3 separate regions of the Homo sapiens genome follow, and regions 2 and 3 are each linked to region 1. The links come from fine-mapping of genetic effects on gene expression. A gene starts in region 1. Each other region holds a variant in brackets. All regions are shown on one strand. Distances are from middle to middle. Region 1 holds the start of GSPT1 (G1 to S phase transition 1). Region 2 holds the start of TNFRSF17 (TNF receptor superfamily member 17). Region 3 overlaps SNX29 (sorting nexin 29).

Region 1 (8,181 bases):
TGAAGGTTGAGTTAATCAGCAACGGGCAATGATACAATCAGTCATGGCTATGTAGGGAAGCCTCCATAGAAACCCAGAAGGACAGGGTTCAGAGAGCTTCTGGGTTGCTGAACACGTGGAGGACCCTTGAGGATGGCACACCTGGAGACAGAATAGGAACTGTATGCCCCTTCCCAGCCCTGTGCATCTCTTCCACGTGGCTGTTCCTCTGTATCCTTTGTAATGTCCTTTATGGGTAACTGTAAGTAAAGTGTTTCCTTGAGTTCTTTTTTTTGAGACGGAGTCTTGCTCTGTTGCCCAGGCTAGAGTGTGGTGGAGCACTTGGCTCACTACAACCTCTGCCTCCCATGTTCGAGCGATTCTCCTGCCTTCAGCTTCCTGAGTAGCTGGGAATACAGGCACCCACCACCACAACCGGCTAATTTTTGTATTTTTTTGGTAGAGACAGGGTTTCACCATGTTGGCCAGGCTGGTCTCAAACTCCTGACCTCAGGTGATTCGCCTGCCTCGGCCTCCCAAAGTGCTGGGATTACAGGCATGAGCCACCGTGTTTGCCCTGTTTCCTTGAGTTCTGTGAGCCACTCTGGCAAATTCCCTGAACCCATGGAGGGGGTCATGGGAACCCCCAATTCATAGCCAGTTGGTCAGAAGCACAGGTCACAATGTGGAACCTGTTATTGGCATTGGAAGTGGGGGCAGTCTTGTGGGACTGATCCCTTAACTTGTGGGATCTGTCCTAACTCTGGTTAATGTCAGAATTGAGTGAAATGATTGCTTATCCTGTTGGTGTCTGTTGAAGAATTGGTTGGTGGTGGGTAGAAACTCCCTCACTTACTGGTGGAGTACAACTGGCCCTTAAACAATGTGAGCCTGAACTGCGAGGGTCCCACTTACACATGGATTTTTTTTTTCAATCAAATGAGGATCAAAAAGACGGGATTCTCAGGATGCAGGAACTCAAGTGTAGGGAGGGCTGACCTTTCATACACACAGTATAGATTGTGGGATTTTAGTATGGTTGGATTTTTGTATCTGAAGGGCTCCTGGAACTAATCCCCTTCCTCTACCCAGAGAGGACTGTACTCTGTGTTGAGCGGTGACTTGTGTGTGAGAGTAGGAAAAACTCTGATTTTTCCTAAGTTTTCTAAATTATTAGTCCTGGGGTGGGGTGTGGTGGCTCATGCCTGTAATCCTAGCACGTTGGGAGGCTGAGGCAGGAGGATCACTTGAGGTCAGTAGTTCCAGATCAGCCTGGGCAATATGGTGAAACCCTGTCTCTACTAAAAATAGAAAAATTACCAGGGGGTTGGGGAGGGGGGGTGGCGGGCACCTATAATCCCAGCTACTCAGGAGGCTGAGGCAGGAGAATTGCTTGAACTTGGGAGGTAGAGGTTGCAGTGCGTGAAGATTGCTCCACTGCACTCCAGCCTGGGCAACAGAGCAAGACTCCATCTCAAAAAATAAAATTAAATTAAATTAAAATAGCTAAGTGCGGTGGCTCACATCTGTAATCCTAGCACTTTAGGAGCCCAAGGCAGGCAGATCACTTGAGATCAGGAGTTTGAAACCAGCCTGGCCAACAAGGTGAAACCCTGTCTCTACTAAAAAAAAATACAGGCCAGGCGTGGTGGCTCACGCCTGTAATCCCAACAGTTTGGGAGGCCAAGGAGGGCAGATCACAAGGTCAAGAAATTGAGACCATCCTGGCCAACATGGTGAAACCCCGTCTCTGTTAAAAATACAAAAATTAGCTGGGCGTGGTGGTGCACACCTGTAATCCCAGCTACTCAGGAGGCTGAGGTGGGAGAATCGCTTGAACCTGGGAGGTGGAAGTTGCAGTGAGCTGAGATCATACCACTGCACTCTAGCCTGGGCGACAGAGCGAGACTCTGTCTCAAGAGTCTCAAGTTATTTAAAAAATAAATAAATAAATAAAATTATTAGCCCTATGTGTCAGCAGTCTTAAATGAGTATCAAAGGACAGTATCATCCCAGCTAAATTGATTAAGCACCTTTTATACACCGGGCATTACACTAGGCAGTGGAAATGTAAAGAAGATTAAGGTAAGACCCTGCCCTCAAGTCGCACAACTTACACACAACTTAGCACAACTAACAAGAAAGACTTTTCCCTTTTCCGCTGGAGCTCTGTTTGGCAGGTCAAAGCTTTGGAAAACCAATGGAGTGGATTTTTTCCTGAATATCCATAATTATCCTATTCAGAGACAAGGAAATTAATGACATCAACTGCTTTTCTAAGCAGCAGTCTGAGCAGTTTCTGCCTTTGTCCCTAGAAAAAGTACCAGGCAGAAGGAAACTCTGCTAATTCAATTAGATGTGAAGAACTAACCTATGAGAAAGTGATCATTCAGTGCTGTAGGAGTGCTACATGGAGGAGAGTAGTATTCAAAGACAAAATGCTTAGAGAAGGATGTGTAGTTCATTATTTGAGTCAGCTGATTGTGTTGACATTTTCTTAGGGGTGGGTGGGTGGGGAGTGAAAATCTGGAAAGAGAAGGCATTTCATTTAGAACACATTGTATTTTTTCTTGTGAATATAAGATGAAAATCTTTTATTCAATAGCAATACAGGTCTCGCATAAATGAAGTTCTAATTTTCATAACAGTTGTTAAGTTCTCTGTAAATCTGACAGTCACTTAATACCAACTTTAAAATGGACATTGTTAAGTATGATTCAGTGAGGTCTTCAGGTATAATAATAGGCTATAACCAAAACTTCCTATTAAGCAGAGGCAAACTCTGCCGGGTGTGGTGGCTCACACCGATAAGCCCAGCACTTTGGGAAGCTGAGGCAGGTGGATCGCTTTTTTTGTTTGTTTTTTGAGACAGAGTCTCGCTTTGTCGCTCAAGCTGGAGTGCAGTGGCGCGATCTCGGCTCACTGCAGGCTCCGCCTCCTGGTTTCACGCCATTCTCCTGCCTCAGCCTCCTGAGTAGCTGGCAATACAGACGCCCGCACACCACGCCCGGCTAATTTTTTGTATTTTCAGTAGAGACAGGGTTTCACCGTGTTAGCCAGGATGGTCTCAATCTCCTGATCTCGTGATCCGCCCACCTTGGCCTCCCAAAGTGCTGGGATTACAGGCGTGAGCCACCGCGCCCGGCCTAACTTGTATTTTTAGTAGAGACGGGGGTTCCACCACGTTGGCCAGGCTGGTCTCGAACTCCTGACCTCACGTGATCCATCTGCCTCGGCCTCCCAAATTGCTGAGATTACAGGTGTGAGCCACTGCGCCTGGCCGGTATGTGTTTTTTTAATCCCTAAAGCTTGGTAGTTTAATATTAAATTCAAATTACTGTAGCCTAGGACTCTTTTGAAAAATACTTGACAGCTTCGTTTTTGACCTATCTCATTAGGCTGAGTTCTCTTTTATCTTTACAATACAGATGTTTAAAATTAAAATACAGATCGGCCGGGCGCGGTGGCTCACGCCTGTAATCCCAGCACTTTGGGAGGCCGAGACGAGCGGATCACGAGGTCAGGAGATCCAGACCATCCTGTCTAACACGGTGTAAACCTCGTCTCTAATAACAATACAAAAAAAATTAGCCGGGCGTGATGGCGGGCGCCTCTAGTCCCAGCTACTCCGGAGACTGAGGCAGGAGAATGTTGTGAACCCGGGAGGCGGGCTTGCAGCGAGCCGACATCGCGCCACTGCACTCCAGCCTGGGCTACAGAGCAAGACTCCGTCTCAAAAAAAAGAAAAAAGAAAATTAAAATACAGATCTAGATCTGGATTTTGTTAGGTTTTTTTTTTTTTTAACAACCTAAGGTTGTTCAGAAACATCTATTCTATGTATGTGCTTCTTTAGTCTGTAATTTCTAGGCAGATTAGTTGCACCCTGTCTAGACTCCTTTCAGAAAAATACTAACAATATGTTTTTCTCTGTCTTGGGCTCCACATGGGTGAATTACAGGAAAGCTTAACAGGTACTCAGAGCAACATTTTTTCCTACTTCATGAAGGGCCTAAATGCGAACTCTTAAGTATTTCTCGTTTGCTTTTGTTCTTTTCCCAGGTTTACCTAATCTGTAAGTGTAAGATGCAGTCGATGAAAAGTACTATGGGAATTCTTGAGCAAATCAGACCATTCAAAAGGAAACCACTTCACGTAATGGTGCATAAGGAAGCTAGACTCACCAAAATAACCCTGTTAGGTAAGCCGGATACACCATGGAATACGGCAATCCTCTGTTTAATTTGCAAACCCTTTGGCGGGGAGGAGGAAAGGATGGAAAAATTTGGGTGAAGGCTTTATATGACTAGTCAAACAAACGGTGAGTCATTGAAATTTTCCAGTTAACAATCCCTTCTGCCTGGGCAGAGCCTGGGCCCCAGCGCTTTATGAGCCACACTGCAGTTTTAAGCCGGAATATCTCACGGTTTTATTGTTTCTTCCACGAAATGATTACATAAAATGAAATCAGCTTTGCAATCTGCACCGGCTTTGAAATGAAGGGCAAAATCTGGCTGGGGGTGAGGAGAAAGAAGGTGGAGAGAGAATAAGGTACGGAGACTGTGAGGCAGAGAACGCAGGAAAGGTGGTGAAAAGAGAGTACAAGAATTTTCGGGAGCTGAGTGTATTTTTCTTCCCCATGTTATAGATGCTGTCCGTTTTCCCCCAGCCTGTGTCCAGCAGGCCAGAGTGGACCCCTCCTATGGGCTAAAATACTCTCGGTCTTCGGCCCAGCACAGAGCTGCACCAACCAGGGCCTGCCGCTGCCCCCCCACCAGGTGACAGGTGGGGCCGCCGAGCGGCCACCAGACCTCCGCCTCCTCGCGTTGCCTGCCGGGAGCCGGAGCCGCTTCCGGTTGCGCCCTGTCCCTGAACTTCGACTCCCGTCGGCCCCCGGGAAAACCGCAGCGGGGTAGCGCGGGCGCTGCCGGAACTTGTAGTTCCACCTCCCGCCGCGCTAAATAGCCGGAAACGGGGGCGGCCAGAACAGAGAACTACCGAGGCGAAGGTACGGGTGGCGGCGAGGGGTCAATCCGCGCCGGGGGTGGGGTTGGCTGTGAGGCCGTCGGAGGTGGTTGGGTGGGAGGAGATCCGCTCACACACACGAGGAGGAGGGTTGAGCTGCCGCCGCCGCCGCCTCTGTCGTCGTCGCGAGTGTGGAGTCGGGACTGGAGCTGCTGCCGCGGCGACGCCGGGGATCTTTGTCGCTAGCTCCCGGCCCTTCTGCCCCGCCGCCTTCCCTCAGTCAGCGTTGCCCACTCCTCTCCGGCCGGGCGCCCCTGCCTCCATTTCCCGCTCTCTGTCCACCACACACACGGCCCCCCCGATCATGGATCCGGGCAGTGGCGGCGGCGGCGGCGGCGGCGGCGGCGGCGGGAGCAGCAGCGGCAGCAGCAGCAGCGACTCGGCGCCTGACTGCTGGGACCAGGCGGACATGGAAGCCCCCGGGCCGGGCCCTTGCGGCGGCGGCGGCTCCCTGGCGGCGGCGGCCGAGGCCCAGCGGGAGAACCTCAGCGCGGCCTTCAGCCGGCAACTCAACGTCAACGCCAAGCCCTTCGTGCCCAACGTCCACGCCGCCGAGTTCGTGCCGTCCTTCCTGCGGGGCCCGGCAGCGCCGCCACCCCCAGTTGGCGGCGCCGCCAATAACCACGGAGCCGGCAGCGGCGCGGGAGGCCGTGCGGGTAAAGGCCCGGGACGCGGGAGGAAGTCCGGCCGGGCGCCGGAGCCCACATGGCGTAGGGGTGCGGTCCGGGGGCGCGCGGCCCTGGGGCCCGGTCGGCACGTGGGGCGCTGACAGTGGCGCCGTCTGCCTGGGTGGGGCGCCCCGAGCCCGGGAGCCGGCCTTCGCGGGGCGGCCCGCGGCGGTGGCCGGGCGGGGAGCGGACAGCGGGCAGCGCGCCCAAAGACCCGGACCCGAGTGCCGCCCCTCCGCGCCCCTGCCCTGCTCTGGAGTCCGCAGTTACCCACTTGAGATGGGAACCGTATGGAACGGAGTGGGGGCCGCGGCGGATCCCTGCCACGAGGCGCAGAATGAGGACAGATGGAGCCAGGAGTCATTTGGGTGGGCGTTTAGAGATCCCAGGAGTTGGGGAGGACGAATGGCCGAGTTTTCCTTTCACCTTAGGCCCAGCCGAGAGAGCGTCTTCTGCTGCGTTTTCTACTATTGAAACTGTAATTACGGTTTAAACTGTCCGTGGCCCCCAACCGTCCTGAAGGAATCCCAAGATGCATTGCAGCCTTGTGATCGGGCAGAAACTTGGCTATCAATACCAAGATCTGTTTTACCCTTAGCATTGTGTACGCTTCTAAAGTTTACAAAGTGCCACAAAGTTAGGATTCCTCACTTAATGTGTGATAGGAGACTATATTGATTTGTGTCTTTTTAAAGTGAAGCTTACACTTTTATCCTTTGTCAGCGACACGTTTAGAGAATTTTCATTGCTGTAAAATCGTTGACCTTATTCAGATTGCTTGGAATAACTCACTGTGTTCGTGCATCAGTAGTTCAGTCTATTTCTTCAGACACTTGAGCATTTGTTATAATTTAATAGTTCTCACGTGTCTTTCTGACCGTAGCTAGTAGACATACATTTTCTAATCCATAAAATTTCGAGTTAACTTTGGTTTTTAAACATCTTCCCGTACTTAGGGGTTGCTTAAGTCGTAGGTAGCATGCTTGCAGGTGCTGACGTTGTAGGAATATCCGGTGAGTGAACTTATGTATTCTCATAATGGTGCTTATTTTGTGGTAGGTAGCTTGCTTTCAGGTACTGATTTTGTGGGAATGTCAAATGAGTGAACTTAAGTATTCTCTTCCTAATGGTGCTTATTTTAGGAACTATCAGTGTTTCCTTAAAGAGAAAATGAAAAAGGAAGGAAAAGGCTGAACGTCCTTTCATCATTTAGCCAGGACGTTAGTGGGGTGGGTCATGACATCCAGCGCATTTTAAGTGAGAACATATTGTTGATTTCTCTCTTTAAAGTTCTGTATTGTGGTGGTTCTTAGATAAGTGGACATTATAAAAGTGCTCCAGGAGTTTGGTTTCTACAGAAACTTTTGTCACCGTTTGCTCTTTCGTGGTAAAGGGATAGTGTCTGGAGAAACACTCTGATGACGTATGTACGTCAGCACGGTTGATTTGGTGGTTTTGTTGACAGTGGCATTTATTTGTGTGGGTGGTTGATGTTTTCTTTTGAGGAGATCGAGCACTTTCAGGGTGGTACGGCTCTAGACAATGTTTTCCTCTTGAATAAGGAAGCTTAGCTTGTAATTCTTGACTTACATCAAGCCATTTTGACTGCCTAACCTAGTTCACTTCTCAGCTCCTAAAAGTGCCCATTCCCTACCTTACTTTGCAGATTCCGTTTATCCAGCCATTTTCTTTCTTGGCTCTTCCTCCTTTCTGTGGAGCCACCAGCACCACTCTGACTAGACTCAGGACTCCATTTACAGCCTGTCCAGCGAGTCATCCGGGGATAACCAACCTTGGTCTAGAATGGTCACTGTTGGTGACTAGGTATTACCTCTTATGCGGGCTTTCTCTCTTCCTGATAGTTGCTAATTTGTAGTTACACCTAATCTTTTTCTCTTTGACAGTGCTAGAAATTGGAGATGCGAAAACCTGTAGGGAAGTAGCTGTCAGTAAGAGAATCCGTACAGCATGGTCAACTTTCTTGTTTTTAATCAAAAAACTATTTTGGTGTTACCGACTTTACCAATTGCTTGTACCAAAATGCCAGTTCATGTTTTTAAAAAATTATCCTATGTAGGATGTCTATTTGGAAAAGAACTGATTTTCTAAGTTGAGGTCCAGGGTTATATTGAGACTGTTGGATTGCATGTTCCAGACTATTAAGTCCATAAAAAGCCAGCATCGGAGAACAATCAGTGCTTATAAAAAGCAGGGGGATAAATAGGAAATAACACCTGGATTGGAACTTACAAAGGGGGAACCAAAAAGTTTGCAAGGTTTTTTTGATAGCGAGGAAGTGGACAATAGGGCTAGCATGTTCTGTTCTTTAGTTAAGCCATAGCCGAAATTTGTGCTGGGTGTGTTTTTAAACTGCATGCCGGGAAAGCTGTTGAAGGAGCCTGGAGAGTCAGACCTTGGGATTCAGTATTGACCTTGGATCTCTTTGAAAACTAAAGAATATAGGTTCCTTAAGAAATAATTAAGTGGAACCCATTTAAGTGTAATTAAGTG
Region 2 (8,181 bases), 50 kb before region 1:
CCAGAGGTCGAGGCTGCAGTGAGCCAAGATTATGCCACTGCACTCAGCCTGGGCATTGGAGTAAGACCCTATCTCAAAAAAAAAAAAGAAACGAGTAAGAAAATGCTGATTTTAGGCCAGGCGCGGTGGCTCATGCCTGTAATGCCAGCACTTTGGGAGGCCAAGGCAGGTAGATCACGAGGTCAGGAGTTCAAGACCACCGTGTCCAACAAGGTGAAACCCCGTCTATATTAAAAATACAAAAATTAGCCAGGCGTGGTGGCAGGTGCCTGTAATCCCAGTTACACGGGAGGCTGAGGCAGGAGAATCGCTTGAAACCAGAAGTTGGAGGTTGCAGTGAGCCAAGATCGTACCACTGCACTCTAACCTGGGCAACAAGAGTGAAACTGTGTCTCAAAAGAAAGAAAAAAAAAATGCTGATTTTAAACACTGGAAGGCCAGGTGCAGTGGCCCACACCTATAATTCTAGCACTTTGGCAGGCCAAAGTGGGTGGATCACCTGAGGTCAGGAGTCCGAGACCAGCCTGACCAATATGGTGAAACCCCATCTGTAGTAAAAATACCAAAACTAGCTGAGCATGGTGGCATGCGACTGTAGTCCCAGCTACTCAGGAGGCTGAGACAGGGGAATTGTTTGAACCCAGGAAGCAGAGGTTGTAGTGAGCTCAGATAGCACAACTGCATTCCAGCCTGGGCGACAGAGTGAGACTTCATCTCAAAAATAAATAAATAAATGAATAAAAATAAAGACTGGAAATGTGGGACAAGACAGGTTTTCACCATGTTGGTCAGGCTGGTCTCTAACTCCTGACCTCAGGTGATCTGCCTGTCTCGGCCTCCCAAAGTGCTGGGATTACAGGCATGAGCCACCACACCCGGCCATACCCAGGAGTTTTTGTGTGCTTAAAATGAGTTAGTATAGGCCGGGTGTGGTGGCGGGCACCTGTAATCCCAGCTACTTGGGAGGCTGAGGTAGGAGACTCTTGAACCTACCTCTTGAGGTAGAGGTTGCAGTGAGCCAAGATGATGCCAGTGCAGTCCAGCCTGGGCAACAGAGCAAGACCCCGTCTCAAAAAAATAAAATGAGCTAGTACAGGTGAAGCACTTAGAACAGTCCCTGGCACGTTAGTAAGACTATATAAGGGTTAGATATGATTATTATAGCACCACTCACATTTTGGGCTGAAAACAGTATGTCGTGCACCGTTATCACAGTTTGCGATTACACATTTACTTGTGTAATTATAGTAATGCCTGATGCTTTCATTAAGCTGGAAGCTCACAAGGCCAAGAACCACCTGTGCACTGCACACTGAATTCGTCTGGTTGATTCTAGGCTTCTCCTGTTTGCAGAAGTACATAAGTTAGCTTTCCTTTAACAATAAAGAGAAAAGGCCAGGCACAGTGGCTCACGCCTGTAATCCCAGCACATTGGGAGGCCAAGACAGGTGGATCACGAGGTCAGGAGTTCAAGACCAGTCTGGCGAAGATGGTGAAACCCTGTCTCTACTAAAAATACAAAAATTAGCCAGGCGCAGTGGCGGGCACCTGTAATCCCAGCTACTCGGGTGGCTGAGGCAGAGAATTGCTTGAACCCGGGAGGCAGAGGTTGCAGTGAGCTGAGATCGCACCACTGCACTCCCGTGTCAACGACAGAGCGAGACTGTCTCAAAAAATAAATAAATAAAATTCAAAAATCAAGAGAAACATCCGATCCTTCCTGAAATCTGTATGTATGTATATCGGAGAGAAGCGCCCTAACCATAGAAGCGTATGACTGGGGCCGGGCGCGATAGCTCACACCGGTAATCCCAACACTTTGGGAGGCCAAGGCAGGTGAATCACCTGAGGTCAGGAGTTCAAGACCAGCCTGACCAACACAGTGAAACCCCATCTCTACTAAAAATACAAAAATCAGCAGGGCATGGTGCCACGTGCCTGTAATCCCAGCTACTCGGGAGGCTGAGGCAAGAGAATCGCTTGAACCTGAGAGGTGGAGGTTGTAGTGAGCTGTGATCATGCCACTGCACTCCAGCCTGGGCAACAGAGCAGGACTCCGTTTCAAAAAAAAAAAAAAGAAAAGAAAAAGAAATTGGTTACTGAGATCTACAGAATGCTGTTTTTTTCAGTAAGTCAAGCGTTTAGAGGTCTCTAGTGAGAAGATTGTCATGTCAGCATGTTCAAGGTGATGAGCATCAGCTAGGATGATTGAGGTTGTTTGCAACAACCTCAGTGGAGAGTGGATAGTGTGGAGAAGGTCTGTGTTAAATGCTACACAGATAACACCATTGTGGACCTTAAGAAGCTGATTACAGCCCAGACTAGGGCTGTAACAAGAACAACCCTTTCAGGAACAAGACTCCTGAATAAGTGGTATACAATTTTTAAGGACCACATATCTTTGGGGCACTATAAAATCCAGCAGAAGATGAAGCTGGAGGTCTTTTTGTTTGTTTGTGTTGTTTTGTTTTGAGACGGAGTCTCACCCTCTTGCCCAGGCTGGAGTGCAGGGATGCTATCTCAGCTCATTGCAACCTCCACCTCCCAGGTTCAAGCGATTCTCCTGCCTCAGCCTCCTGAGTAGCTGGGATTACAGGTGCCTACCACCATGCCCAGCTAATTTTTGTATTTTTAGTAAAGACAGGGTTTCACCATGTTGGCCAGGCTGGTCTCAAATTCCTGACCTCAGGTAATCTGCCCGCCTCGGCCTTTCAAAGTGCTGGGATTACAGGCATGAGCCACCGCGCCTGGCCAAAACTGGAGCTTTATTATCAATAGGTTAGAATTCTTTCCCCCTCCCACCTTTCTCTCCCACCCTCACCCCCCACACTGGTATACATGCTTGTTTTTAAAAACTCACGTTAATAAAAACTTAGATGTCAGGAAAAAAAAGAGTTTAATCATGAAACCAAGGAAGTTTCTACCATTAAGCTCCCAACAGTAACCTAGAGAAATATATCTAACATAAAGAGTTTCCACAGTTAGAGGACAAAAAGCTGTATCGGCAACTGAAAAATACAGTCATCCTAAAGAGATCTGACACATCATCTATTCTGACAAAAGATTTTTAAAGTGGCACTGCTCGAGTCGAAATGGTTAATTACCTAGCAGAAATTGATTTCTCTATCTCCGTAGCACTCAAAGCAGCTGGCAGGCTCTTGCAATAGTCATTCGTTTTCGTGGTGACAAGAATGGTTGCGCCTTCCTCCATAGCTGGGAGTGGAAAGCAATGGTCAGAGTCGACCTTCGGTTTGCTCTTGATGCAGTCTTCACAGGTGCATTCTTCCACCGTGTACTCGAGGCCTCTCGGAAGAATAATTTCATCACCAGTCCTGCTCTTTTCCAGGTCAATGTTAGCCATGCCCAGGAGACCTGATCCTAATTATGTAGAAACGGAAACATTAACCCAAACTTCACAGAGAATGTGGTCATGAGAGTCTTAGCAGTACACATCGGGACTCAAAGCAATGTGAGAGAGATTTTTTCATTTTTTAGAGGTGGGGTCTTACTGTGTTGCCCAGGCTGCATTCAAACTCCTGGGCTCAAGCAATCCTCCCACGTTAGCCTACAGAGCAGTCGGGACTACAGCTCCATGCCACCACACCCAGCTTGAAACAGATCTTTTCAGTAAAAAAGAATGAGTATGTGCTGGGCCCTGTGGCTCACGCCTGTAATCCCAGCACTTTGGGAAGCTGAGGCGGGCAGATCACTTGTGGTCAGGAGCTTGAGACCATCCTGGCCAACATGATGAAACCCTGTCTCTACCAAAAAGTACAAAAATTAGTCGGAGGTGATGGCACATACCTATAGTCCCAGTTACTCAGGAGGCTGAGATGGGAGAATTGTTTGAACCCAAGAGGCAGAGGCTGCAGTGAGTTGAGATCACGCCACTGCACTCCAGCCTGGGCCACAGAGCGAGACTCCATCTCTAAATAAATAAATAAATAAATAAATAAATAAATAAATAAATGCATACAGAAATAGGGCAGTGGCTGTACATGCTTGGGAATCCAATCATGAGCAAAGGTGCTGCAGAAGTATTTTTATCTTAAGAGGCACTTAAGTAGAACATTCATTTTTCTGGGACTGGTTCTCTATTGCTTAAAAATAATTATTTTTTAGATGATTCCTCAAATAATTCAGGAGCAACTGGTTATTCATTTCTAACATTTTTCAGTAGTAAAATGTTCACTCAAGCAAAGAACACCTATATTTGTATAAAAACATGACCATAGATCTTGACAAATATGCTTTTCCTGACAGTAGCAGACCTGGCTAGGAGTTTCTGATAATGTGGCATTTAATCGATGTGCTAACTTTAGTCAAAGAGACTGATGTTTCCCAAGAAAGCCTTAGTACTTTCAATAGAGTAATTAACAGTGGAAGAATCCTGGAGAAGACTGACATTGTAGAAAATCTGCCAAGGTGTCAAAATCAGAATGAAGATGGCTCACCTCTACCAAGTTCATTTAATGTAACAATGTTCTAACACATTCGAAAGGG[C/T]TGTAACGAAGTGAAATAGTCAACGCTAAAAAAAGAAAAGGAACTGAAACTCACAATAGCCATCCCCTGGAAATAGATTTCAAAGATTCACCATCAAACCAACCTGTGTTTTTAAACTCGTCCTTTAATGGTTCAGAGTTTATCTTCCTTAGCAAAAACATTAGCACGAAAACTGCCAAAGAAATTATTAAGCTCAGTCCCAAACAGGTCCAGAGAATCGCATTCGTTCCTTTCACTGAATTGGTCACACCTTTATGAAAAGAACATCAGACAGATAATGAGCTGATAACATAATATTCACATACTTTATTGTTATTATTTATTTATTTATTTTGAGACAAAGTCTTGCTCTGTTGCCCAGGCTAGAGTGCAGTGGCGCGATCTCGGCTCACTGCAACCTCCACCTCCCAAGTTCAAACAATTCTCCTGCCTCAGCCTCCCGAGTAGCTGGGATTACAGACCTGTGCCACCATGCCCAGCTAATTTTTTGTATTTTTAGTAGAGACAGGGTTTCACCAGGTTGGCCAGGCTGGCCTCAAACTGCCGACCTCAGGTGATTCACCCACCTCGGCCTCCCAAAGTGCTGGGATTACAGGTGTGAGCCATCCACCGCACCCGGCTGTCATACTTGATTATTTTGCTAAAATAATGAATTATGGATTGTTTTGATAGCAAAATAATCAAGTATGGATTATTTCCATTCAATCACCTTAATTAATGAACATTGACTTTTAAATTCTAAATATCACTTAATTAGAAGAGCTGATTTTTAAAAAAAATCTATGTTGCTAATAGTGCTGAATCATATCAAGTTCAGTTCCAAATAATTACTTTGTTTCCATAAACATTAAAATCACTGCCTTGCTTCCTTTCTCTTTTTGATTCAAGAAAACTCACCATCATGCCCATTATGTTGATTCTCTGAATAAGCAGTCCATATAGACAGAATAGTTCACACCAATGAATAATCGTTCAAGCAATATTACTTACTTGCATTACAATAACGCTGACATGTTAGAGGAGGAGTATTAGAAGAACATCGAAGTTGACAAGGTATGCAAGCATGCAACAAACTGTCAAAATATTCATTTTGGGAGCACTGCCCAGCCATCTGCAACATGATCACAAAAAGAAAACAAGGGAGCTACAGAAAGAACAGCCTGGAAGGACAAGTAATATCTCTACAAGAATTCCAGAGCAAATGCAGCAAGAGCAGCTAGAATGTTGAGAACAATGAACTTCGCCTGCTTCGTGGGTTCTTACGGGGGCTGTCTGTGTCTTCGCGGCAGCTAAGGATTTGAATACCACATCTAATTCAAGTTTCTAAGTTTGAGTCTTGGATGGGGTAAGAGACAGGGTGTAAATATCAGGGCATATCACATCTGAAACAGAAACTGCTTATTTATAGAAGAAATTTCTCAGCCAGGTGACAGTTGCAAGATGCAGACAAGCCCACAGCATCAAGCCGAATGTTCAGTAACAGTTTCTGGAACATCTGTTAATAAGCTGTACTCTGTGAGAGGTGCCAGGGAGATAGACAAGACAAGGTCTGTGCTGTGCCCCTTAAGATCTTAACATTGAGGCCAGCTGCAGGGGTTCACACCTGTAATCCCAGGACTTTGGGAGTCAAAAGGCAAAAGGATTGCTTGAGCCCAGGAGTTCAAAATCAGCCTGGGCAACATGGCGAAACCCTGACTTTACAAAAACATTTTAAAAAGTAGTCTGGTGTAAGCTGGGCGCCGTGGCGCTCTCCTGTAATCCCAGCACTTTGGGAGGCCGAGGCAGGTGGATCACTTGAGGTCAGGAGTTCCAGAACAGCCTGGCCAACATGGTGAAACCCCGTCTCTACTAAAAATACAAAAATTAGTCAGGCATGGTGGCAGGCACCTATGATCCCAGCTACTCAGGAGGCTGAGGCAGGGAGACGTGCTTGAACCCAGGAGGCGGAGTTTGCAGTAAGCCAAGATCAGGCCACTGCGCTCCAGCCTGGGTGACAAAGCAAGACTCTATCTCAAAAAAAAAAAAAATTCTACAGGAAGATCAGAGGTGATGCACTAAGGAAGACGCACAATGCCACTGACAGAAAAAGAGACATTTAGGGTAAGAGCTCGTGGAAAGAGGGCTGAGAGGAAGATAGGTTTGGGGTATTATAATAATAATACAATAATCTATGTTCCATTGTTGAAAATTTAGAAATACAGATGAGCAGATAAAACCATTTTAAAAATCCACAGTCCAAGCATCCAGAAGTCATCACCGCTAACACCTGGTGTATCCCAGAAGTTGCAAACAGACCTGCCGATGCGATGTCTTTTGTTTCACCGATCCCTGAATTCTAGATAGATACATTTATATAGTGCATTTTTCTGTTTACATAAATGGATCACTTGAATTTGCCTTTTTTTTTTTTTTTGACAGAGTCTCACTCTGTCTCCCAGGCTGAGTGCAGTGACACAATCACAGCTCACTGCAGCCTCCACCTCCTGGGTTCAGGTGATCTGCCCACCTCAGCCTTCCAAGTAGCTGGGACTACAGACATGCGCCAGCACGCCTGGTAAGTTTTGTATTTTTTGTAGAGATGGGTTTTTGCCGTGTTGCCCAGGTTGCTCTCAAACACTTGGGGTCAAGTGATCCACCCACCTCGGCCTCCCAAAGCGCTGGGATTACAGGTGTGAGCCACTAAGCCCAGCTTGAATTTGCTTTTAACCATACTGAGTGAAATACCCATATAGAGACGTCCAGATGTTTGTCAAAAATGCAGGACTCAATTAAAATTTGAGGAAATGGCAAACTCCTAATTCAGTATAGTGATTATCTCTGAGGTAAGTGGTGGGGAAGAAGGGGAGCACAAAAAAGGCTTCACCTGTGTTTATTATATTTTCTTTATTAAGCTGAGTGGTGGATACATTGATATTTGTTGTTTTCCTTTTGTTGTATTTTTCTTATTCTTTACACTTTCTTAAGGCCCAAGGAGTGTGCCAAGGAAACCTGCCATCCCTTCTACTTTATTTCATCCTCCAAGCACCCCAACCTTTAAAAACTTATTCTTTTTTTTTTTTTTTTTGAGCTGGAGTTTCACTGTTATTGCCCAGGCTGGAGTGCAATGGCGCGATCTCGGCTCACTGCAACCTCCACCTCCCAGGTTCAAGCGATTCTCTGGCCTCAGCCTCCTGAGTAGCTGGGATGACAGGTGCATGCCACCACGCCTGGCTAGTTTTTGTATTTTTGGTAGAGACGGGGTTTCACCGTGTTGGTCAGGCTGGTTTCGAACTCCTGACCTCAGGTGACCCACCGGCCTTGGCCTCTCAAACTGCTGGGATTACAGGCATGAGCCACCTAGCCTGGATGATTTTTTATTTATTTGTTTGTTTGTTTGTTTGTTTGTTTTGAGATGGAGTCTCCCTCTGTTGCCAGGCTGGGGTACAGTAGTGCGATCTGCAACCTCTGCCTCCCGGGTTCAAGTGATTCTCCTGCCTCAGCTTCCGGAATAGCTGGGATTACAGGCATGCGCCATCATGCCCAGCAAATATTTGTATTTTTAGTACAGACAGGATTTCACCATATTGGGCAGAATGGTCTCAGTCTCCTGACCTCGTGATCCACCTGCCTTGGCCTCCCAAAGTGCTGAGATTACAGGTGTGAGCCACCGCGCCCAGCCACTGATAATTCTTGTTTTTA
Region 3 (8,181 bases), 65 kb before region 1:
CAAAGGCAGAAGAGGAATACCTACAAATTTAAATATTAAATGTGCCAGGAATGTATATTTAAAGGTATATTCTGTTTTCACAATAGTTTTTAATGTCATTTTGGGTTTTCGCTTTTTTTTTTTTTTTTTAAGTTGTAGGAGGAAAGAGCAGATTCCAAGAAACACAGATGCAAGCGAAGAAAAATGAGATGGAGTGGGCAAGTTTCCCTCCTCGGAGGAAGCGGGGTACTGCCTGGGTGAGCAGAGGAAACACTAGTGCCAGGTCTCTGAAGGGCTCCCGGACAGCAAAAAGTCAGGGCAAGGAAAAGAGTCCTCACTCCCCTTGCAGGATTCAAACTGCTCAGCCCCCACCTAACCTGCTCCCCTACTGGCTCTCCCACCTCAGGAAAAGGCAATTCTGGTCAGGTACAGTGTCTCACACCTGTCATCCCAGCACGCTGGGAGCCCGAGGTCAGTGAATCACCTGAGGTCAGGAGTTCGAGACCAGTCTAGCCAACATGGTGAAACCCCATCTCTACGAAAAATACAATAATGAGCCAGGCATGGTGGCGCTCGAGGCGGGAGAATCACTTGAACATGGGAGACAGAGGTTGCAGTGAGCCAAGATCACGCCACTACAGTCCAGCCTGGGTGACAGAGCAAGACTCTATCTCAAAAAAAAAAAAAAAAAGATAAGGCAATTCCAACCCCTTTCAGCTGCTCAGGAAGAAAACCTAGGAGCCACCTGCCTCAGGAAGCCTCTGCTGCCACATCACATTCCTAACCACCCCATCCAAAATTACAGCAGCCCTTCCCCTGAAGTTCATCCTCCATCCAGACAATTTAGTAGGATGGACTCCCAGCCACAGGCTCCAGACTAGACTTATGGTCCAGACCTGGCCAACCAAAATCACAGTGATGGGTTGCAGGATGACCACATGGCCAGCCCGCTCCATGGAGGAGCGGCTGCCTGTGGGTGAAGCCAACAGAGAGAAAAGACGAGTTGACAGCCAGACAGAAAGATAATCCTGATAGTCCTTTAACACGTGGATCCAGCTAAGCTTGAAGCCAGCCCTATGTCTAGACTTTTCCATTACAAGACACCATATATTCCCATGCTGTTGAAATCAGTTTCATCAGCTTCTGCCACATTCCACTGAAAAGAGCCCTGGCTAACACACTCAGCACGGTCCCAACAACATCCTTTTGCTTCAACAGACCCCAGTGGTAACAACCTTTTGATAAGTGATAGAGGATGCACCAAACTATCATCCAATGTTTGCTGAATGTTGAACCCCAAATTTCTGGCCAACCTCTGCTTCCACCAGAGCCCTTATTCTTACTAGCAGCATTGAAACTAGTGCAACCACTTTGGAAAAAATCAAATCAATTCAACTGAGTTTAATTATAGGCCAAAAAAAAAAGGAATCAAAAGTGATAAACTCTTCGATGTTAATGCTACTTTTGGAAAATCTCCCTACAGACATAATCTAAGGGATGGAAAACTACCTTGAAAAAAAAATGTTCACTGCATCATTACTTATAACAGAAACAAAAAAGAAAGAAGGAAAGCCAGGTACAGTGGTTCACACCTGTAATCCTGGCACTTTGGGAGGCTGAAGCAGGAGGATCACTTGAGGTCTGGAGTTCAAGACCAGCTCGGGCAATATACTGAGACCCTGTCTCTACACCAAATGAAAAAGTTAGACGGGTGTGGTGGCGCACCTTTAGTCCTAGCTACTCAGGAGGCTGAGGTGGGAGGGTCATTTGAGCCCAGGAGATCAAGGCTGCAGTGAGCTATAATTGTATCACCACTGCATTCCAGCCTGGGCAACAGAGCAAAACCCTGTCTCAAAAGAAAAAGAGAGGAAAGGGAGGAAGGGAGAGAGAGAGGGAGAGAGGGAGGAGAGGGAGAGAGGAAGATAGGCTAAGTTTCTACAACTAGAATCAATAGTTAAAAGTTGTACTACATGCAAAATGATGAATGATGGACTGTACATTCCATAAAAGTGATCAATAGTGAGCCCATGGAGCAATGTGGTAAAGTTTTGTCCTGAAATGTTAATGGTGAAAGCAAGATGCAAAGTTGTATGATAATAATACAATTACTGCAGCCTATATCAGTCTCAATCTTTTCTTTTTTTTTTTTTGAGACAGGGTCTGAGGGGTCTGGCTCTGTCACCCAGGCTGGAGTGCAATGGTACTTTCATGGCTCACTGTAGCCTCAACCTCCCAGGCTCAAGTGATCCTCCCACGTCAGCCCAGCCTCTCGAGTGGCTAGGACCATGGGCATGCACCACTACATCCAGCTAATTTGTGTGTGTGTGTACAAAGACCGGCAGACGGGTCCCACTATGTTGCCCAGGCTGGTCTCAAACTCCTGGGCTCAAGCGATCCTCCCACCTTAGCCTCCTAAAGTGCTGGAATTACAGGTGTGAGCCACTGTGTCCAGCTCAATCTTTTTCATTCTTTCCCCCTAAGGACACTTTTTAGACACTTTTTTGCTAATCATCCCCTCCATGAAAAAGTAATACCACAGATACAATGTACATCTGTTTATGTACTATATGCCTATCTGTGCTTTATACATCCAAGTAAGTTTTTTTTCTCTCCTGAGAACCAGTGTTCACCCCCTTGGGGGTGATATCACCCCCACTGCAAATATACGGCCTATGTATAGACAAGACAGTGGCAGATGGAAGGTGCTTTATCTGGAAATATGCTCACATTGCCACAATTTGGAGAAATCTATAAAATCTTGGATTTTAGTTCCAAATTTTAAGAGCTCTAAGCATTTGAGTTCCTATCAGTTACCTGGAGTCAAGCAACCAGGAGGCAAGATAGCCAACATCAGTAGGACCTAGTCCATCGCCAGTTGCTAGCAGAGGTGGGGGTCAACTGTTTGCTGATGGTAGAACATGTACTTCTTGCATTCCACCATCATAGATCAATCCAGTGCCTTCACAAGGGGGAAAAAATGTTGATAGCATCACTTTTCTACTTTGAATGAAAACCACAAATATTCTTTTTTCATTCATTCATTCATTTCAGCTGATTATTTATTCTAAGTACAAGCTACTGTCAGAGAGGGCCCAGTCAGTGCCGAGGAGAAAACTGTGACCTTCAACATTCCAGAAAACTAAGAAAAAGCAGCTGGGCACAGTGGCTCACAACTATAATCTCAGCACTTTGGAAGGTTGAGACAGGATGGCTTAAGGCCAGGAGTACCAGATAAACCTGGGTAACGTAGTAAGACCCAATCTCTACAAAAAAAAAAAAAAAAAAAAAATTGTAACCCAGGCGCAGTGGCTCACACCTGTAATCCTAGCACTTTGGGAGGCCAAGGCAGGTGGATCACCTGAGCTCAGAATTTTGAGATCAGCCTGCACAACATGGCAAAACCCATCTCTGCTAAAAATACAAAAAATTAGCCAGGCGTGGTGGTGCACGCCCGTAATCCCAGCTACTCAGGAGGCTGAGGCAAGAGAATCACTGGAGCCCAGGAGGCAGAGGTTGCAGTGAGCCAAGATAGTGGCACTGCACTCCAGCCTGGACAACACAGTGAGAATCTGTCTCAAAAAAATATTCGTTAATTAAAAAAAATTTTTTTTAATAAAAAGCTGCCAAAATATACATTAACGTCAGGCAAGAAACAGCAGTAAATTACCCATTAAGCCCAAAACTCTGATATATGATGAATCTTAGAGCTCATCTGTTACACAAATTGTTTGATCACTATGGGCCTGGCTTTCCTCACCCTTGAAACAGGAATCTCAGTGTCTCCTTTACTGATGGAGACCGGGCACGGTGGCTCACGCCTGTGATCCCAGCACTTTGGGAGGCCGAGGCAGGTGGTTCACGAGGTCAGGAGATCGAGACCGTCCTGGCTAACATGGTGAAACCCCATCTCTACTAAAAATACAAAAAATTAGCTGGGCGTGGTTGCAAGCGCCTGTAGTCCCAGCTACTCGGGAGGCTGAGGCAGGAGAATGGCCTGAACCCAGGAGGCAGAGCTGGCAGTGAGCCGAGATCGCATCACTGCACTCCAGCCTGGGTGACAGAGCAAGACTCCATCTCAAAACAAAAAAA[A/C]AAAAAAAAAAACTGATGGAAAGGAGCATCCAGGAACTTAAGGATGAAGACTTACAAAAGACAAAACTTGAGTATAATGACTTTCTGGCTCTACGAGTTCTACTTTCCCAGTAACAACAAACACATATCTGAAAATCAGCATTCCTTACATAGTCTGAAGAGGTGGGCAATCAAGTATTCCTATCTACTGGGTTCTTTAAAGAAAAATAAACAAATTGTGACCACCACCCTACAATAACCACCCACACATGTCTGGCAGGCATCTTTCTTCCTGATAATCTTTTTAGGTCTACATACATATATGAATCCATAAATATTGTCTTCAGTATGTTTTAATTTGCATCAAGGTATATATTTTAGGTATAATTCTACACCCTGCTTTTTTTTTTTTTTAATTGAGATGAGATCTCGTTATGTTGCCCAGGCTGGTCTCAAACTCCTGGACTCAAGCAATCCTCCCAACTGGGCCTCCCAAAGGGCTCAGATTACAGGCGTGAGCAATCACGCCAGACCCACCCTGCTTTTCTTACAGAACATTAACGTTGAGATGCAGCCACGGTGATGTGTATGAATCCGTATCAATCCTTTTAACATTTCTGAGGCTTTCCGTCAGGTGTCCACAGCACACTAGGTTTACCTACTCCCCAATTAATGGTCATCTTAGTTGTTTCTGGCCTCATGATACCCATTTATCTTGTATATATATATTACCTAGCGCCATTCCACTGCCTGGTTATTTGTACTTAATGTATTCAGCTTTGCACCCATCTCTCCTCTGACTCTACTCAAATATTTTCAACTCAAAAATACAGCAGACTCTAATTACCAATTTATAGCACATACAAGAGACTGAAAAACACTTTATGCCACACCAAAAGGATGCAATCAGCAGAGGCCTGCAAAGGATCCTTGGGATAAATAACTCTGTTTCCTTCAACAACAAATGCAAGGGGGAAAAGGAGAGAGATTAAAGGGCAGCCTGTAGTTTAAAAAAAGACTGCTTCAAAAAACACCACCAAGAAAGTGAAAAGAGCCCAGGCATGGTGGCTCAGGCTTGTAATCCCAGCACTTTGGGAGGCTGAGGCAGGCAGATCAATTGAGGTCAGGAGCTGGAGACCAGCTGGCCAGCATGGTAAAACCCCATCAACACTAATAATACAAAAATTGGCCAGGTGCGGTGGCTCATGCCTGTAATCCCAGCACTTTGGGAGGCTGAGGTAGGCGGACCACTTGAGGCCAGGAGTTCGAGACCAGCCCAGTCAACATGGCAAAACCCCATCTCTACTGAAACAACAAAAAAGTTAGCTGGGTGTGGGGGTGTGCACCTGTAGTCCCAGCTACTCCAGAGGCTGAGGCAGGAGAATCACTTGAACCTGGGAGGCAGAGGTTGCAGTGAGACGAGATTTCTCACTGCACTCCAGCACTCCAGCCTGGGTGATAGAGCAAGACTCCAACTCAAAAAAAAAAAAAGAAAATGAAAATGAAAAGACAAACCATGGAAGGGGAGAAAATTTTTGTAAACAATAAACCTGATAAGGGACTAGTATCTAAAAATTACAGAGGATTCTTATAGATCAGCAATAAAAAGACCACCGAATGTTAAAATGGCCAAAGGATCTGAAGAGGCATTTCTCCAAGGAGGATACACAATTGGTCAATAAGCACAAGATAAGATGCTCAACATCACTAGTCACTAGGGAAATGCAAATCAAAACTACGAAGAAATACCACTTCACACTCACTAGAATGTCTATGATTAAAAAGACTCTTGGGGAAGGTGTGGAGAAACAGAACCCTCATATGCTGCTGGTGAGAACTGAAAATGGTGCAGCCACTTTAGAAAACAGTCTGACACAGCTCCTCAAATGGTTAAACAGTTACCATATGACCCTGCAATTCCACTCTTACAAACATGCCCAAGAGAAATGAAGAGACTTGCCCCCACAAAAACATGTGCGTGAACGTTCATAGCAGCATTATTATTCAGAACAGCTAAAAAGTAGAAACAACTCAAATGCCCATTTTTGATGCATGAATAAACAAAATATGATATCCACATAAAGGAATATAATGTGGCCACAAAAAGGAATGAAGTACAGATATATGCTGTAATGTGGTTTAACCTCAGGAAAATTATACCGAGTGAAAAAAGCCAGATAAGAGAGGTCACATACTGTATGATTTCATTTATATGAAATACCCACAACAGGCACATCCAGAGACAGAAAGTAGATGAGTGGTTCCCAGGGTCTGAGGGGAGGGGGAAAGATGAATGACTGCTAATGGGTACAAAGTTTCTTTCTAAGGTAATTAAAATGTTGTGAAATTAACTATGGTGATGTTTACACGGCTCTGAAAATACCAAAAAATAAAAATAAAATAAACAGGAGGTGAGGGAGAGACCTAAAAGATTTAAAACACAAACCAATGTGCACTGTTTAAACCTTACTTAGATTCTGAGTTTTTAAAATACACTATAAAATAAAATGTTATGGCCGGAGCACAGTGGCTCATGCCTGTAATCCCAGCACTTTGTGGGGCTGAGGCAGGTGGATCATATGAAGCCAGGAGTTCACAAGTGGATCACATGAAGCCAGGAGTTCACAAGTGGATCACATGAAGCCAGGAGTTCGAGACCAGCCTGGCCAACACAGCGAAACTCCATCTCTACTAAAAATACAAAACTCAGCCGGGCATGGTGGTACATGTCTATAGTCCCAGCTACTTGGGAGCCTGAGGCAGAAGAATTGCTTGAACCCAGGAGGCGAAGGTTGCAGTAAGCTAAGATCCTGCCACTGCACTCCAGCCTGGGTGACAGAGCGTGACTCCATCTCTAAAACATAAATAAAATAAATAAATAAACAAAATATTATAAGTGGGGAACAGAAGAAAGAGGAAATATTTCCATGCCACTTTATTTTATCGTGTACCAGTTACCCACCCCACAAGTGGGGAAACCCACTTTCAACTGCATTCTCAAGAAACAAAATATATCGTTGGACTTCCCCTTCCATTTTCACAGACCACTTTTTCTGCCTCAATTACAATGTTTCCAAAAGAAGGTTTTCATCCTTAATGCTTTTTCCTAAAAAGTCATTTGTTGGTTTCCTTTTCTCTTTGGCTTTAGATGTAACGATTTTTTTTTTTTTTTTTTTTTTTTGGAGACTGAGTCTCACTCTGTTGCCCAGGCTGGAGTGCAGTGGCATGATCACCGCTCACTGCAATGTCCACCTCCTGGGTTCAAGAGATTCTCATCCCTCAGCCTCCCGAGTAGCTGCGATTACAGGCGCCTGCCACTATGCCCTGTTAGTTTTTGTATTTTTAGTAGAGATGGGATTTCACCATGTTGGCCAGGCTGGTCTCAAACTCCTGATCTCAAGTGACAGCCTGCATCTGCCTCCCAAAGTGCTGAGATTACAGGTGTGAGCCATCACACCCAGCAGACGTAATGATTTTTTAATTAAATTTTAAAGTTTTCTTTCTTTTGTTTTTTTGTTTGTTTGTTTGTTTTGAGACGAAGTCTTGTTCTGTCGCCCAGGCTGGAGTGCAGTGGCTTGATCTTGGCTCACTGCAACCTCTGGCACCGGGGTTTAAGCGATTCTCCTGCCTCAGCCTCCCAAGTAGCTGGGATTACAGGCGCGTGCCACCAGAGTTTTCATATTATTTCTCCTTGAAAGATAAACTGATCAATTTCTATTGGCTTATCAATTTCATTGTCTCTTGTGCTAAAGGTAAAACGAAAAGGGTCCAGAACTGTGAGCTTGTGGCAAAGACTCCTTGGTCATAGTAAAAGGAAAAGATTTTCAGACAGTGCCTAGTCCCAGCCCTCCTCTCATAACTAGGCAAAAACAACCCCACTCCTACCCCACATGAGCTCTTGCAGAAACAACAGCAGGCAGCTCTGAGATTCTGACAATGCACCTCGTGATATTCACAGTACCAGTCACTTTAACTGATGAATGTTATTTAGTCATTACAAGCCTAGGAGATAGGTACTACTAGGTATCCTCATTTTGCTGGGACTCCCAGAATGGTCGAGAACTTACTCTTAAATAACACAGGTTTATGTGGCAGGGCCAAGATTTGAACCCAGGATGTCTGGCCTCAGGGCCT

What was found.
Region 2: its variant is fine-mapped to the expression of GSPT1 in whole blood (TOPMed, PIP above 0.99).
Region 3: its variant is fine-mapped to the expression of GSPT1 in whole blood (TOPMed, PIP above 0.99).

Annotation. Positions count from the first base shown.
Region 1 is chr16:11,912,846-11,921,026 of GRCh38, reverse strand. It overlaps GSPT1 (G1 to S phase transition 1), which reads left to right and starts at 5,071. Exons shown (of 15, transcript NM_002094.4): 1 at 5,071-5,658. The coding sequence starts at 5,307. RefSeq lists enhancers at 3,131-3,631, 4,932-5,081, 4,690-5,627 and silencers at 4,682-4,741, 5,452-5,521, 5,612-5,851, 5,892-5,941.
Region 2 is chr16:11,962,767-11,970,947 of GRCh38, reverse strand. It overlaps TNFRSF17 (TNF receptor superfamily member 17), which reads right to left and starts at 5,738. Exons shown (of 3, transcript NM_001192.3): 1 at 5,494-5,738; 2 at 4,607-4,753; 3 at 2,880-3,378. The coding sequence starts at 5,623. The coding sequence ends at 3,101. It also overlaps a transcript of NPIPB2 not described here and the pseudogene UBL5P4. RefSeq lists enhancers at 5,511-5,950, 6,071-6,190 and a silencer at 7,702-7,871. The variant C/T (reference allele first, on the strand shown) is at 4,504.
Region 3 is chr16:11,978,323-11,986,503 of GRCh38, reverse strand. All of the region lies in intron 1 of SNX29 (sorting nexin 29), which reads right to left. Among named protein-coding and RNA genes, the nearest start is that of SNX29, 5.7 kb to the right of the region's middle. The variant A/C (reference allele first, on the strand shown) is at 4,069.